2 separate regions of the Homo sapiens genome follow, and region 1 is linked to region 2. The links come from fine-mapping of genetic effects on gene expression. Tissue or cell type: whole blood. Region 2 holds a variant in brackets; the other region holds the start of a gene. All regions are shown on one strand. Distances are from middle to middle.

Region 1 (5,000 bases), 34 kb after region 2:
TCCTCAACCTATCTCTTACCTTCATGGTAGACCTAGGCAAGGGAAGTGACATTTCTCCCTTCTCTGGGACTGCTCTTTATCTCCCTAACTATTCTCCCCCTCCTCCAGCCTCATGGCCATTCACATGTGCATACTTCTTCACTCCATCTGACTGTCATTTCGTGCCCCACTTGCCTTTATTCTCTTCCACTCCCAATAGCCCAGCGTTCTTCTTTGATTTTGTCATGTCCCTTACCAAGACCCCTCCCTACTTCCTAATTCTCATCACATCAGTACCAGGTGTTTTCTTTCCATCCTTTCTCCGCTCCCTTCACTGTAATGCTACCTCTTTTCAGTTCCTCCACTGTCACTCATCTGTGCTCTGCCTCCTCTCCATTTTTTCTTTTTAAAAATAAAATCTTATCCAGGCGTGGTGGCTCATGCTTATAATCACAGCACTTTGGGAGGTTGAGGTGGGAGGATCCCTTGAGCCCAGGAGTTTGAGACCAGCCTGGGGAACATAGAGAGACCCTGTCTCAACAAATAATTTTTTAAAAAATTGGCCAGGCCTGGTGGCACTTGCCTGTGGTCCCAGCTACTTGGGAGGCTGAGATAGGACGATTGCTTAAGCCCAAGAGGTCAAGGTTGCAGTGAGCAGTGATTGCACCACTGCACTCCAGCCTGGGTGGCAGAGCGAGACCCTGTCTCAAAACATAAAATAAAATAAAATAAAATCTTGTTGGGTTACTGGGAACTCACTCAATAAACCTTAGGTGGTAGGTATTATTATTTTCATTCTACAAATGAGAAAACTGAACCAGAAATAGAAAAAGTGATTTTCTAAAGTGACATAGAGCTGGTAAATAGAAGAGGGGCTTGAAACAGGAGTATCTGATTCCAAGTCTGCAGTTCTTATCACAAGACAAAAACAAAAAAACATTGTCACTACCCACAAATAGCTCTCAATTTAGTGGAAGACACAGGTAGATGAAAATATTATTTCAGCATAAGTAGGAAAATATTATAATAAGAAAAATGTATCGCAAGCAGCCATTGGAGCAGAAAGAAGCATTCAAGAAAAGCTACCTGGAAAAGATACCATTTAAGCTGAGTCTTTAGGGGTACCTACACATTTGCAAGGAGAAGGAGAGTAGGGTGCCATGGAAAGAACTCATTTCAGGTAGAGATAGTGGTATAAGCAAAGCCTTAGAGACAGGCAAGAGTCTGGTGTGTGAGTATGTAAATATGAACTGATTGAGATTTATTAGAGCATAAGTTACAAGGCTGAGAGGGTAAAAGTAGAGGCTGCTTGGCCTTTTGTGCCATGATAAAGAATTTGGGCTGGTAAACTTGAGTTTTAGAAATTACTCTGTCTGCAGGGTACAGAATTCATTTCAAGAACACAAGGTTTGGACGAGGAGATTAGTTAGGAATTTACTGGAATAGCCCAAGTCATAGAGGATGAGGGCTTGTCCTAAGACATTAGTGATGATCCAGGCAAGGGACTGCTTCTATGAACAATTTAGAAGGTAAAATTGGCCAAACCTAATGATTGATCAGATTTAGAGAATGAAAAAGAAGGAAGAGTCTGGGTTGTTTCTGAGGTTTATGGCCTTGTAAGGGTAGATGCTGGTGTCATTAGCTGAGATCAGAAAGTGGAAAATGAATTAGATGAGGCAGGGGCCAAAAGGACAGATAAGTTCAACTCTAGTCACATGGTGCAGAGACACTTGTGAGATATGTAGGTAGATATGTCTGGTATGAAGCTTGATATTTGAATGTGAAGCTCAAAAGCATGGTTAGGGTTGGGGATATGATTTGGGACTCTTAAATACAGAGTTATAGTGGCAAAAATTAAACAGACAAATAAGCTCATGAAGGAGATTGTGTAAAGAAAGAGGAGTACAGAGGCAAGGCTATAACTATAGAGAACACTAGTGTTTAAGGGGAAGAGAAGAGAAGCTATTAAGGGATCAAGAGAAGTCCATGTAGTACAAGGAGAAAATGGTGCCATGGAAGCCAGGGTAGTAGAGAATGCAAGAAGGAGTAAGTGATCAACAGAGCCCAGTGCAGCAGAGAAGTCCAGCAGGATATGAACTGAAAAGCATGCCATAACCCAGTCAATATAGAGATCGTTGTGCCCTAGACAAAACCAATTCCAGTGGAAGCCAGGCTGCAAGCATTGAGGAGCGTGTGAGAAGTGAGGAAGTGGAGATAGCAAGTGCAAACTATTCTTTTAAGAAAACTTGTCTCACAAGTGAAAGAAAAGAGTTGAGATTAGAGCTAGAGAGGATATCATGATCAGAGGGGACTTTCAGGATGGAAGATTTTTATATTCAGAAAGTAATTCAATCCTGTACACCAAACTTTCTTATACCTACCCTTCTTATTCCACCTGAATACTGCTTCTTTGGAGGGCCAGAATTAGTCCATGTTTCTTTCCTTCTGGTCCTTTCTCCCAAGGTAAGCAAAGCTCCATTCCCACACCAATATTCAAATATTTTACTTACCCAGTAGCATCTGGGCCACCCAGAGCACACCAAGGGAAAGGTAGAGGGCCCAGGCCATGAGGACACAGCCCAGCTTCATGGTGACTGTGTTTAGGTCTCCTGCAACCCCAACACTGATTTTCTTCAACATGAAACCTCTCAGATTAGAAAAGAGGAAGTAAATTTAACTGTCTCATCTCCTTGCATCTGGGGTCTGTTTTCATTTTCTAGTTTGTAATTGGCTTTCATCATTCAGATTTGGCCAACACGCTTTCAGCATCATCTGCACCCTTAGGGCTATGACAAAATGGTAGCACTCTCAGCTGTTCAAGAATTTACTCACAGAGCTCAGGGGCCTGTCAAAGCATGTCATTGTCTGATAGCCAGCTGGCCTTCATGTACACTCTGGGAAAGGTCAGTGCAACAACCACCCTTTTCACTGGTGATGCAACTGGGGACAGAAGGTGGGATGTTGTTTGAAGGCCAATAGAAAATCACTGGAGAATCAATGATGAGAATTCAAATGTCCTGCCCATTCCAACACTTATATGTTTCTAGTGACTAGAAGGTAGCGAGACAGAGAAGGAAGATTAGTCACGGCACCAAGTTAGATATCAGATTAGTCTCTAGTAGGCTCTGACTATCCAAAGCCCACACAAATTTGCATGCAAATTTCTCTAGACTCGTGTCAGCTCTCTATTTCTGGAGCATGACTAAGTCTGCTCAGTCTCAGTGGAAATATGAGTACAAGGCAGGGAGAATCCACTGGGAAAGAGTAGAGGAAAAAGAAAATCTATTCCCAGAGGATCCAGCAGTCAGCTCAGGGCTTAGGCTCATAGCCAAAGCTCAGGCCACTGATCCTGAGGAAATTAGAGATAGGAGGCATCCGATATCTTGAGAAACCTGAGGAGACTCAGGAATAGGAGCAATATAGAGGCTACAGCCTCTCCCTTCCGTTCCAGATGGCCTCCTGGGAACCATTGTCCCTGCCTCTGAATGTTTGCTATTTGTTTGAGGCCTACTTAATGGTAGGGCCCATGTGTCTTTTCACAGTGGCCACATTCCTCCCCTTTCTGTCATCATAACACCCACCAGGCCTCCAGTAGGTTATTTGGAGATGAAATGAGCCATCAGAAATGGGGTAAGGTAGGCCAGGCACTGTGGCTCATGCCTCTGTAATCCCAGCACTTTGGGAGGCCAGGGTGGGCGGATCACTGGACTGGAGGTCAGGAGTTCAAGACCAGCCTGGCCAGTATGGTGAAACCCCATCTCTACTGAAAAAAAAAAAAAAAAATTAGATGGGCATGGTGGTGCATGGCTGTAGTCCCAGTTACTTCAGAGGCTGAGGCATGAGTATCATTTGAACCCAGGAGGCAGAAGTTGCAGTGAGCCAAGATTGCACCACTGCACTCTAGTGTGGGTGACAGAGCGAGACTCCATCTCACAAAAAAAAAAAAAAAGAGAGAGAGAGAAATGGGGGAAGGTAGTTTGGTCCTCCTTGAAGGCAGAGAGAGGGACAGTATGACCCTTCAACTGTGCAAAAACCACAGGTCAGAGCAGACATATCAACCACACGGGCATAAGAGAGTGGATCTTTCTGAGTCTAAAATAAGCATTTAGAATAAAATTTCCATTATCGAGAGGCATACGCTTCTGTGCAGGTGGCCCCAGGGAGTCCAGGGGTGGTTGAATATGGGTGCTGGGGAAGGCAGTGAGGCAGTAAGCCTTGCAGCTGATGTGATGTGAAGCCTCAGAAGAGGAAGAAAAGCCTAGCTAGCCTTAATAATTTTTTTTTTTTTTTGAGATGGAGTCTCTGTTGCCCAGGCTTGAGTGCAGTAGCGCGATCTCGGCTCACTGCAACCTCTGCCTCCAGGGTTCAAGCCATTCTCCTGCCTCAGCCTCCCGAGTAGCTGAGACTACAGGAGCGTGCCATCACGCCCGGCTAATTTTTTGAATTTTTAGTAGAGATGGGGTTTCACCCTGTTAGCCAGGATGGTCTTGATCTTCTGACCTCGTGATCTGCCCACCTCGGCCTCCCAAAGTGCTGGATTACAGGTGTACGAATTAAACAAATAAAATGTGTTTAGATGCATCGCCACTCCTAAAACTACATAAAACATAGACCCTCAGGGTTAGGCAGAGGCTAAGGGGCTTCTAAACAAATCATGATATCTTTCTCTTCTTATGTCACCCTTTCTCCTTTACTGTCCTTACCATAGCATCTTACCTGGATAGAGACCCTCCCCTATACCATCTGCAGCAATCCTTGCAGGACCCCACTGTCAATATGGAAGGCAAGGGGCCTTCTGAAGATTTGGGGTGAAGCTATCAAGTTCTTTACACTGAAATTTCCATTAAGCTGCTGGGAAAATTTACTCGCTTGAAGCTTAATCAATGAACTATTTAGAATAGATGTGATTCACTGCGAGGAAAAAGCAACATTGGGTCTGCTGTTTGTTCATGGAGACTGAGATTCGGTTTATTGAGTAAGTTCCTCCATCAGGATCACCTCAGAATACTCAGGGGGAGATG
Region 2 (8,528 bases):
GCATGGTGGCAGGCGCCTGTAATCCCAGCTACTTGGGAGGGTGAGGCGGGAGAATCACTTGAACCCCCTTGAACTCATGCCACTGCACTCCAGCGTGGGCAACAGAGCGAGACTCCATCCTAAAAAACAAAAATGAAAACAAAACCTTAGCTGGGCATGGTGGTGCATGCCTGTAATCCAGCTACTCAGGAGGCTGAGGTAGGAGAATCCCTTGAACCCCGGAGGTGGAGGTTGCAGCGTGCCGAGATCGCATCACTGCACTCCAGCCTGGGTGACAGAGCAAGACTCCATCTCAACAACAATAAAAACTTTGAGGACATTATGCTAAGTAAAATAAGGCACGACTGTAGATGCTGAGGATATAAAGATGTATGACAGTCTTTGCCCTCAAGGAACTTGGTGAAATGCTGGAGTGAAAGTAAGTAAATAGCTAATTAGTGTTATAGTAGAGGCAAGGGCCGTGTACTAAGGGAGCACATGGAGGCATCCAATCCTAATGGAAGGAGGGTAATTAGGGATGGCCTCCCAGAGGAGGTGATGCTTGATCTGCATCTTGAAGGATGAGTGGGAATTTGTCAGGGAAAAAGGAGGGAGATGAGGAAAGAAGTTCTAACCGGAAGGACCAACATCTTCAAAGGCACAAAGGCCAGAAAGCCCCATCGAAGTGTAAATGTGTTGTTGGAAAAGGGAGAAAGAAGGATGATGCAGATGGTGTTCACAGTTGCTTTCAGGACACTGGAAAGATAGGCATGACCAGATCATAAGGGCAACGTATGCCTTGCTAAGAAGTTTTAAATTTTTCCTAAAGATCGTGCAAATGCTAAAGAAGTTTAAGCAGCAGAATAATGCCACTTGATTTGTATTTTAGAAAACAACCCTGACTACAGTGTGTGGAATAGGCTGGGAGGACAATTCTAGAGGCAGAGTCTGGTTAAGAATTAAGGCAATAATTGAGTCAAGGAATGAAGGGTGCTGGTAGAGGAAACACAGAGGAAGGGAATGTGTTTAAGAGCGATTAAAAAGGCAGAAGGGAGGAGGCTTAGAGACCAAATGGATATGAGAGAGGAAAGAGGGAGGAATAAGAGATAACTTTATTTCTAGTTTGAGTGATTGAGTGGATGATGATTTCATTCACCAAGATGGGGAACAAAGGAGGAGGGACAGTTTGGAGAAAAGTAAATGTCATCATTGGCTGGGCTGGCTGGAGACTGGGATATGACCCTCAGAAAAGAGATAAAAAAGAGATCCAATCATCATCATCATCATCATTTTTTTTTTTTCTTTTTGAGATGGAGTCTTGCTCTGTCGCCCAGGCTGGAGTGCAGTGGTGCGATCTCAGCACACTGCAACCTCCACCTCCTGGGTTCAAGCTATTTTCCTGCCTCAGCTATTCTTCTTCCTCAGTTCAAGATATTCTCAGCCTCCCAAGTAGCTGGGATTGCAGGTGCGCACAACCCTGCCTGGCTAATTTTTTTTTTTTTTTTTTTTTTTTGTATTTTTAGTAGAGACAGGGTTTCACTATGTTGGCCAGGCTGGTCTTGAACTCCTGACCTCAGGTGATCCACCTGCCTCGGCCTCCCAAAGTGCTGGGATACAGGTGTGAGCCACCATGCCCAGCCCCAGTCATCATTTTATGAATGAACTAGGATTGATGAGATTGCCTAGGATGAGAGAATAAAATACAAAAAGAATTGAGCAATTGCTGAGGAAAAATAAGATTTAAGGGACACATAAGCAAAAGGAACCCACAACAGAAACTGAGTCATAGTGGAACAGATAATAAGAAAATTTGGTATCTTAGAAACCAAGGATGAGTCATACTAGAGAGGCCAAATAAAGTGAGGACTAAAAGCTTTCATCAGGTTTAACAATCACAAGGTCTTAGTATCCATAGCGAGAGTAGTTTCGGTGAGATTGTTGGGAGTGGGGTTGGGGAAATGGAACCTGATTGCAGGAGGCAAGGAGGAAGTGGAAAGCAGGAAAATGGAGGTGGTAGGTGTGGACTCAACTTTCAAGATGAAAGAAAGGAGAGACCATACCCAAAGGGAAGTGTGCAAGAGGGAGGTGTTTCTTTTCTTTTTCTTTTTTCTATAGGAAAAGTTGTAGACATATCAGAAGAGGGAAAACAGTTAAAGATACAGGAGAAAAGGAGTCCTTGAATTAATTAGGGGGTGGAATGGGATCCAAAGCCCAGTGGATGATTAACCTTTTCCATGGTAACCAGAGGAAAGAAGAAAATAATGGGTGGGGATGAAGGGAGGCTCAGGAGTTTTGGCGGCAAGAAGTTAAAGGCATTCTCTTCTGATGGTTTCTATTTTCTGGGTGAAATAAAAACCTAGTTTATATGCTGTGAGGATAGAGCTGTGAGAAGAATAGCCAGTTTGAGGAAAAATTGCCTGAGGAGAGTGGCGAATATGTGAATACTCTCTGTGGAGAGCATACATGGAAGCAGACCTGTGGGAACGGGCTGCTGAAGGCCTAGTCAGTGTTCAGATCATAAATATAAAAGACGTATGTGTAGTAAAGGGTTAACTCTGCAGGTTCTGATTGCTCAAGCCCTGCAAGTTCAAGGAATGGTCTGTCTTCGGGAGGACTGGCCCTTGACCAACTCCTCATGCCACACTATATCAGTTTGACTAGATATGCTAACAGCGTGACTATGGTAAAGCCTGTTTCCGTATGCCTGAGGCCCTGGGCCATGCTGTATCAGTTTGACCTCCGGGAGGCTGGAAATTGAGTAGGTAAGGTCAGTCATGCAGGTGACGCATGCCCATGCAACTGGCCCGCAATAAAAACCCAAGGCTTGGGTGAGCTTCCTGCTCGGCAATACTTCACACATGTTGCCATGCATCATTGCTGGGAAAATTAAGCACATCTCTGTACAAATTCTTCTGGGAGGCCATACCTGGAAGCTTGCACCTGGTTTCTCTTGAACTTCACCCCTGGGCCTTTTCCCTTCGCTGAATTTTAATCTGTATCCTTTCACTCTAATAAACCATAACTTTGTATATCAGCTTTTCTGAGTTCTGTGAATCCTCCTAGTAAATCAGTGAGCCTGAGGGAGCCTGAGGGAGCCTGAGGATGATCTTGGTGACTGCCGATACAGCATCCACTGTCTATAATATTGAATAACTGGAGACATCTAAATGACTACAAGTAATAGATTGGTTAAATGGGTTGTTTTATCAATTCAGTGAAATACTAGGCAACTACTAAGAAATATAACAAAGAGGGATGTGGTAGCTATATCAGAAAGTTTTTTAAAATAATATTTTTTTATTTTGTGGGTACATACTAGGTGTATATATTTATGGGGTACATGAGATGTTTTGATATAGGCGTGCAATGTGTAATAATCACATTACAGAAAATGGGGTATCCATCCCCTCAAGCATTTATCCTTTGTGCTACAATCCAATTACACCCTTTTACTTATTTTTAAATGTAAAATTATATTATTATTGAGTATAGTCATCCTGTTGTGCTATCAAATACTAGGCCTTATTCTATTTCTTTTTCTTTTGGTAACAATTAATCATCCTCACCTCCTCCCTAACCGCCAGCTACCCTTCCCAGCCTCTGGTAACCATCCTTCTACTCTCTATCTCCATAAGTTCAATTGTTTTGATTTTTAGATCCCATAAATAAGTAAGAACGTGCGATGTTTGTCTTTCTCTACCTGGCTTATTTCACTCACATAATGATCCACAGTTCCATCTATGTTGTTGCTAGTGACTGAATCTAATTCTTTCTATGGCTGAGTAGTACTCTATCACATGAGTACCACATTTTCTTTATCCATTCATCTGTCGATGGACACATAGGTTGCTTCCATATCTTGGCTACTGTGAATAGTGCTGCAGCAAACACGGAAGTGCAGATATCTCTTTGACATACTGATTTCCTTTCTTTGGGGTATATACCTAGCAGTGGGATTGCTGGATTGTATGGTTATATCATAAAGTTTTAAAAAGCTGGTTTACAAGTAGAAATGTCTGAGCACATTTACTTTAAAAATACATATATGTATGCACATATATGAAAAATGTTGAAAGATAGATGGTATATAAAACCATTAACTAGTTATTTATGGGAGTGGGCATTATGAGAGAGACTTACATGAAATGCATTATGTACTTCTTCTTATATAGTTTTTATTTATCTATTTCAACTAGTATTATTAAAATTCTTCACCATGAAGAATAATAGATATTTATATTCTGGAAAAGAGGTGAAACGTAAGGGTTCATTTACTGACATTTTATTATGGTATCCTTAGAAGTGAGATTTCCCTTCTCAATTCCCTAAAATTACTGCATAAGTTCCTTCAAGGATAGGGGCAGGAGACACATCTCGATTGTTACTGAATGCCCGCAGAGGCTGGCTCAGTATATATCTAACTGGGAGTGAATTTAACAGCTTCTGTATTTAGGATTTTAGCCACTAGGGGGCATTATTTGCCTTTTGGTAAAATACGTTTTCTCTGCACTTGTCTTGAAAAAAGGAAAAATGAATATGGAAGCCCTGTAAGAGCATAATCAGGATGTTAGGCCCAAGGAAGGAAATGCTATCTTTAGAGAGGGAGCTGGGTTGCTTTCCCGTCAAGGAAAGGAGAAGAGGCTCTCTGTTTTAGGATTAGTAGATACACACAAACACACACACACACACACACACACACACACACACACAGCCACAATTTGTTTTTATCACCATTAAAACTGCAATCTTGATGAATATTGAGTAAGCAAAAATTTCTTATAAATGCTAAGAGATCGTCAAGTGTGCGATGGCTTGCTTTTTTGAGAAGGCACCCATTTTATGTAACAAGGCTGACCGCATGCGGATACACATGACCCCAGTCTTCTTACTCTAGTTGTTTCTCAAAACTTGTGGGCTTCTAGAGCATAGTCACAGTTGTGATTTATAATTATCATCTATAGAACATTTACTATAAGTGCAGATCTCTGCTGAGCAGTCACAGAGAAATTTCCCTTCTTTTGTCTCATCACCTCCTCATCATGGTCCAAATACAAGTTCCTCTTTCTATTAATATTTCCAGCATTGCCACCAGTGCCCTCCTGCATC[C/T]GTGAGTTATCAGTAACTGTTTGTCAATTTTTACAATTATGTTCTTAATGCGACTTAAGATCTAGGACAGATGTGAAAATATACTTTGAGGCTCCCAAATAACAATGTCGAACAAAAATATAAATGGAAGAATAATAACATGATTCTATAGAAGGTAGGTACCTAGGACGTGATGAGTTCAAATTTAGCACTGTCTTTGAGGCACATAGTCTGAGGCCAGAGAAAACCTAGAAGTGAATCCCAAGCTGCATCTGGGCCTGCTACTTACTAATAGGTAATCGTGTACTCTTAAAAAGTTATTTGATTTCCCAAGTCTCAGCTCCTTAATATGTAAAATAGGAATAAGTATAGGCACATTGCAGAGCCGTAGTAAGAATGGACAACATATCTCATTAGTGCGATAAAGAAATTCTAAGTTAAACCACTGCACTAGAGGCAGTTCAGAGAGGATGCAGAACAGGAGAGGCTGGAGCTATGGTGAAGAAGTGGCCTGGAGAAATGGCTATGGGTGACTGGTGAGAAAAGCTGTTGGGCAGAGATAAATCACTACACAACCAGTCCAGGAATTCAATGGCCATGAGAACTTAGAGAAAAGTAGATCTTAATCATCTACCCTGCCACAACCACATCCCTAAGTCTGCATATTCATTTAGAGGCTCGTCTTTGTAAAGATGTGTCCTCCTTCTGTAGCACCTATTATCAAGATTCTGAGGCAATAACTTCAGCTCTACAGAACCCTAGGACCAGCGATAATGGATTGGTAGTTGAAGCCCTCTCACTGCGTAGGAATAACTTGGCCAACTGAGCAAATAACTCTTCCTGCCCAACTTCCGACCCTCCCCACCCAACCCAACATTAGCACATCCATCACATTGTTTATCTGTCCTTCTGAGAAATGCTGGGGCAGGAACCGGTTCGTGACATTTGGGCCATGCTCTCAGTTCCTTTTTTGATTCAAGAAGAAATTGGTAAACAGAGAGTCAGATGAGTGGGGCAAGGGAGACCACAGATGTTCCCCATTCCACATCAGGGTTTGCTGAGTGACACTTTGCACAAACCCTCTCCCTCCATTCTTCCCCGGACAGACAAAATGCAGAGAATGGCCATGGGTCCCGTCACAACCTTGGAGAGCTTTTGCTGCCTGCACTTAGGCCAGTGTGTTATAGTGGAAAGAGCTCTGGACTTGCATGCACAAACCCTAGATTTAAATTTTGGTTCTGTCACGTAGTAGTTAAATAACTTTGGCCCAGCCAGTTAAGCTCTCTGAACTTCTGTGCCCCTATCCAAAAAAAGTTAAGGCCAATAATGCCTTCTCTAATATTCCCTAAAGGATTTTTGAACTAGAAAAATCAGAAGTCCTGTAAACTTTAGGTTAGTCCACAGATTATTTCCAAATCCTTTAAGATGTCATGCCAACAAACATATCTCCTTACCACCAAATATATCCCCTTCTTTCTCCCAGATGTCTCAAACCATACGTTCAATTGACAGTACAAACAAAATACTTTGGCGGCTGGGACAAAGAAATAATTCATTTTAGCTGGAGGAAGCTGGGAAAAATTCTTAGAATAGGTGACTTTAAGCTGGGTCTTTCCCACGGGTGAAAGAAATGAGGGATAAGGGCCTGGAAAGGGTGGTAGAAAGAGCGATGAGGCAAAGGTGGCAGAGACATGAAGGCTAAGACACTTGAAGTTGTTTTATTCAATGTGCCTGGCATGTCTAGGCAAAAAGGAGAATTAGTTTTGAGACTTTGCAAGCTGTCTTGGAACATGTGTTCAGTCACCCTGGCCACATCCGCCCTTATGGTGGCCACAGAGTCGCAGTGCTGTCATAGGCCAGGGCTCCTGCAGTCTCGTGTCCTTGTCCCTCACAGGCTTCATGTTCACAGCCCTCTCACAGAGGATCTCAAATCCCCTTACTGGGGCTACAGGGGTACTCCATGGGCAAGTCCCACCTGCTTCTATACCTTCAGGCTATCAAACCTTAAGGCTGCCTCCAATCCAAAATGATATTCTCAGGGCAGATGACTGCAGGAAGGGCTTGTAAATGCTCCTAAAAAGAAGCAGTGTCCACTAGGTGCCAGCATGAGCTTACCAAGAATGGTCTTGCCCTGATAGTCTGTTTTTTTGGTTTTCTTTTTTTTTTTTTTTGACAGGATGAGTAGACAGGCAGATTAGGGAAATGTTCATATACTGGGTACTTCCCTAGGCTTCTGGACAGACCTCCTTGTGGACAAGGGAGATAATTATGAGCTCAATATGAGAACAGTCAACTACTCAGCCTGGCCAATATGGCGAAACCCTGTCTCTACTAAAAATACAAAAATTAGTCAGGCATGGTGGCAAGCACATGTAATCCCAGCTACTCTGGAGGCTGAGGCAGGAGGATTGCTTGAACCCAGGAGGCAGAGGTTGCAGTGAGCCAAGATCGTGCCACTGCACTCCAGCCTGAGTGACAGATTAAGACTTTGTCTCAAAAAAAAAAAAAAAATACAAAAAAAATAGAGAGAGAACAGTCAACTAGGCTGGTAATTGGTCAAACAATCATACCAAAAGAGTACAACACAGATAGGTAGCGATCAAGAAATAGATTTCTAGTGAGATAGAGCTCCACCCAAATTTCTTTCATCTGCTTTATTCAATTTTTTAAAAAAGTAATTTTGATTAGAGCATAAAGATATGCTTACCTAATATGCATGTGTTACAAGCTGGGAGGGACTGTACTGGGATCAAAAATTGTCTTATTACATTAACAAAGACATAATTTAAAAGAGATAAATATAAGGTATAAGGTTTTGCATTTTGGTCCCCAAAATGAACTGCATAAACAAAAGTTGGGGAGCAAAGAGGTGTGCTTTAGATGAAAACAATCTCTCTGGTAAGTTTATAGGCAATAAGCCCAATGGGGCTGGAGAATATCACGAGTCCTGGAGAGGAAGCTATCTCGTTAGGCTACATTCAACTCCATGTAAATGGCTGGAGTTCTATTTCTATTCCATCACTATCAAGTCATTTCAGCTCTCTGGGTCTCAATTTCCTTTCTCTCAAATTAACAAGTTAGACTAAATCCCTAAGTCTTTTCCAGCAATAAAATTCTAGGACTAACCCCTTTGTTGTCTGTAGAGGTGGTGTCAACATCCACTCATTACCATCTCAAGTGCCTTTCTGAACTGCAGAGCCTGGAAATGTAAAAGGGACCGTGACTCCCCTGCAGTGAGGTGCTTGGTGTAATTTAAGTCTGGCCATTCAGAAGCCCTTATACAACACATGGAAGGTAAAAGTGAAGCGGAGGCTGTACTACTGCAGCTGATGTTGCTTCTGGAAACCTGGTTGAGAAAGATTTTGGTTTTTCTTTACCAGCAATAGTACCTACCTAGTGTCCAGGATCTAGCTTTGTGTTGCTAGGGGCAGGGCCCTGAGCATCCATTCCTTGGACCATAGAAG

What was found. PIP is the estimated chance that this variant, and not a neighbour inherited with it, causes the effect.
Region 1: it holds the start of FCRLA, and the variant in region 2 is fine-mapped to the expression of FCRLA in whole blood (INTERVAL, PIP 0.97).

Annotation. Positions count from the first base shown.
Region 1 is chr1:161,704,833-161,709,832 of GRCh38, reverse strand. It overlaps FCRLA (Fc receptor like A), which reads right to left and starts at 2,604. Exons shown (of 5, transcript NM_032738.4): 1 at 2,490-2,604. The coding sequence starts at 2,568. RefSeq lists enhancers at 2,129-2,308, 3,849-4,068.
Region 2 is chr1:161,737,563-161,746,090 of GRCh38, reverse strand. No RefSeq gene overlaps it. Among named protein-coding and RNA genes, the nearest start is that of DUSP12, 8.0 kb to the left of the region's middle. RefSeq lists enhancers at 1,888-2,047, 6,884-7,093. The variant C/T (reference allele first, on the strand shown) is at 5,086.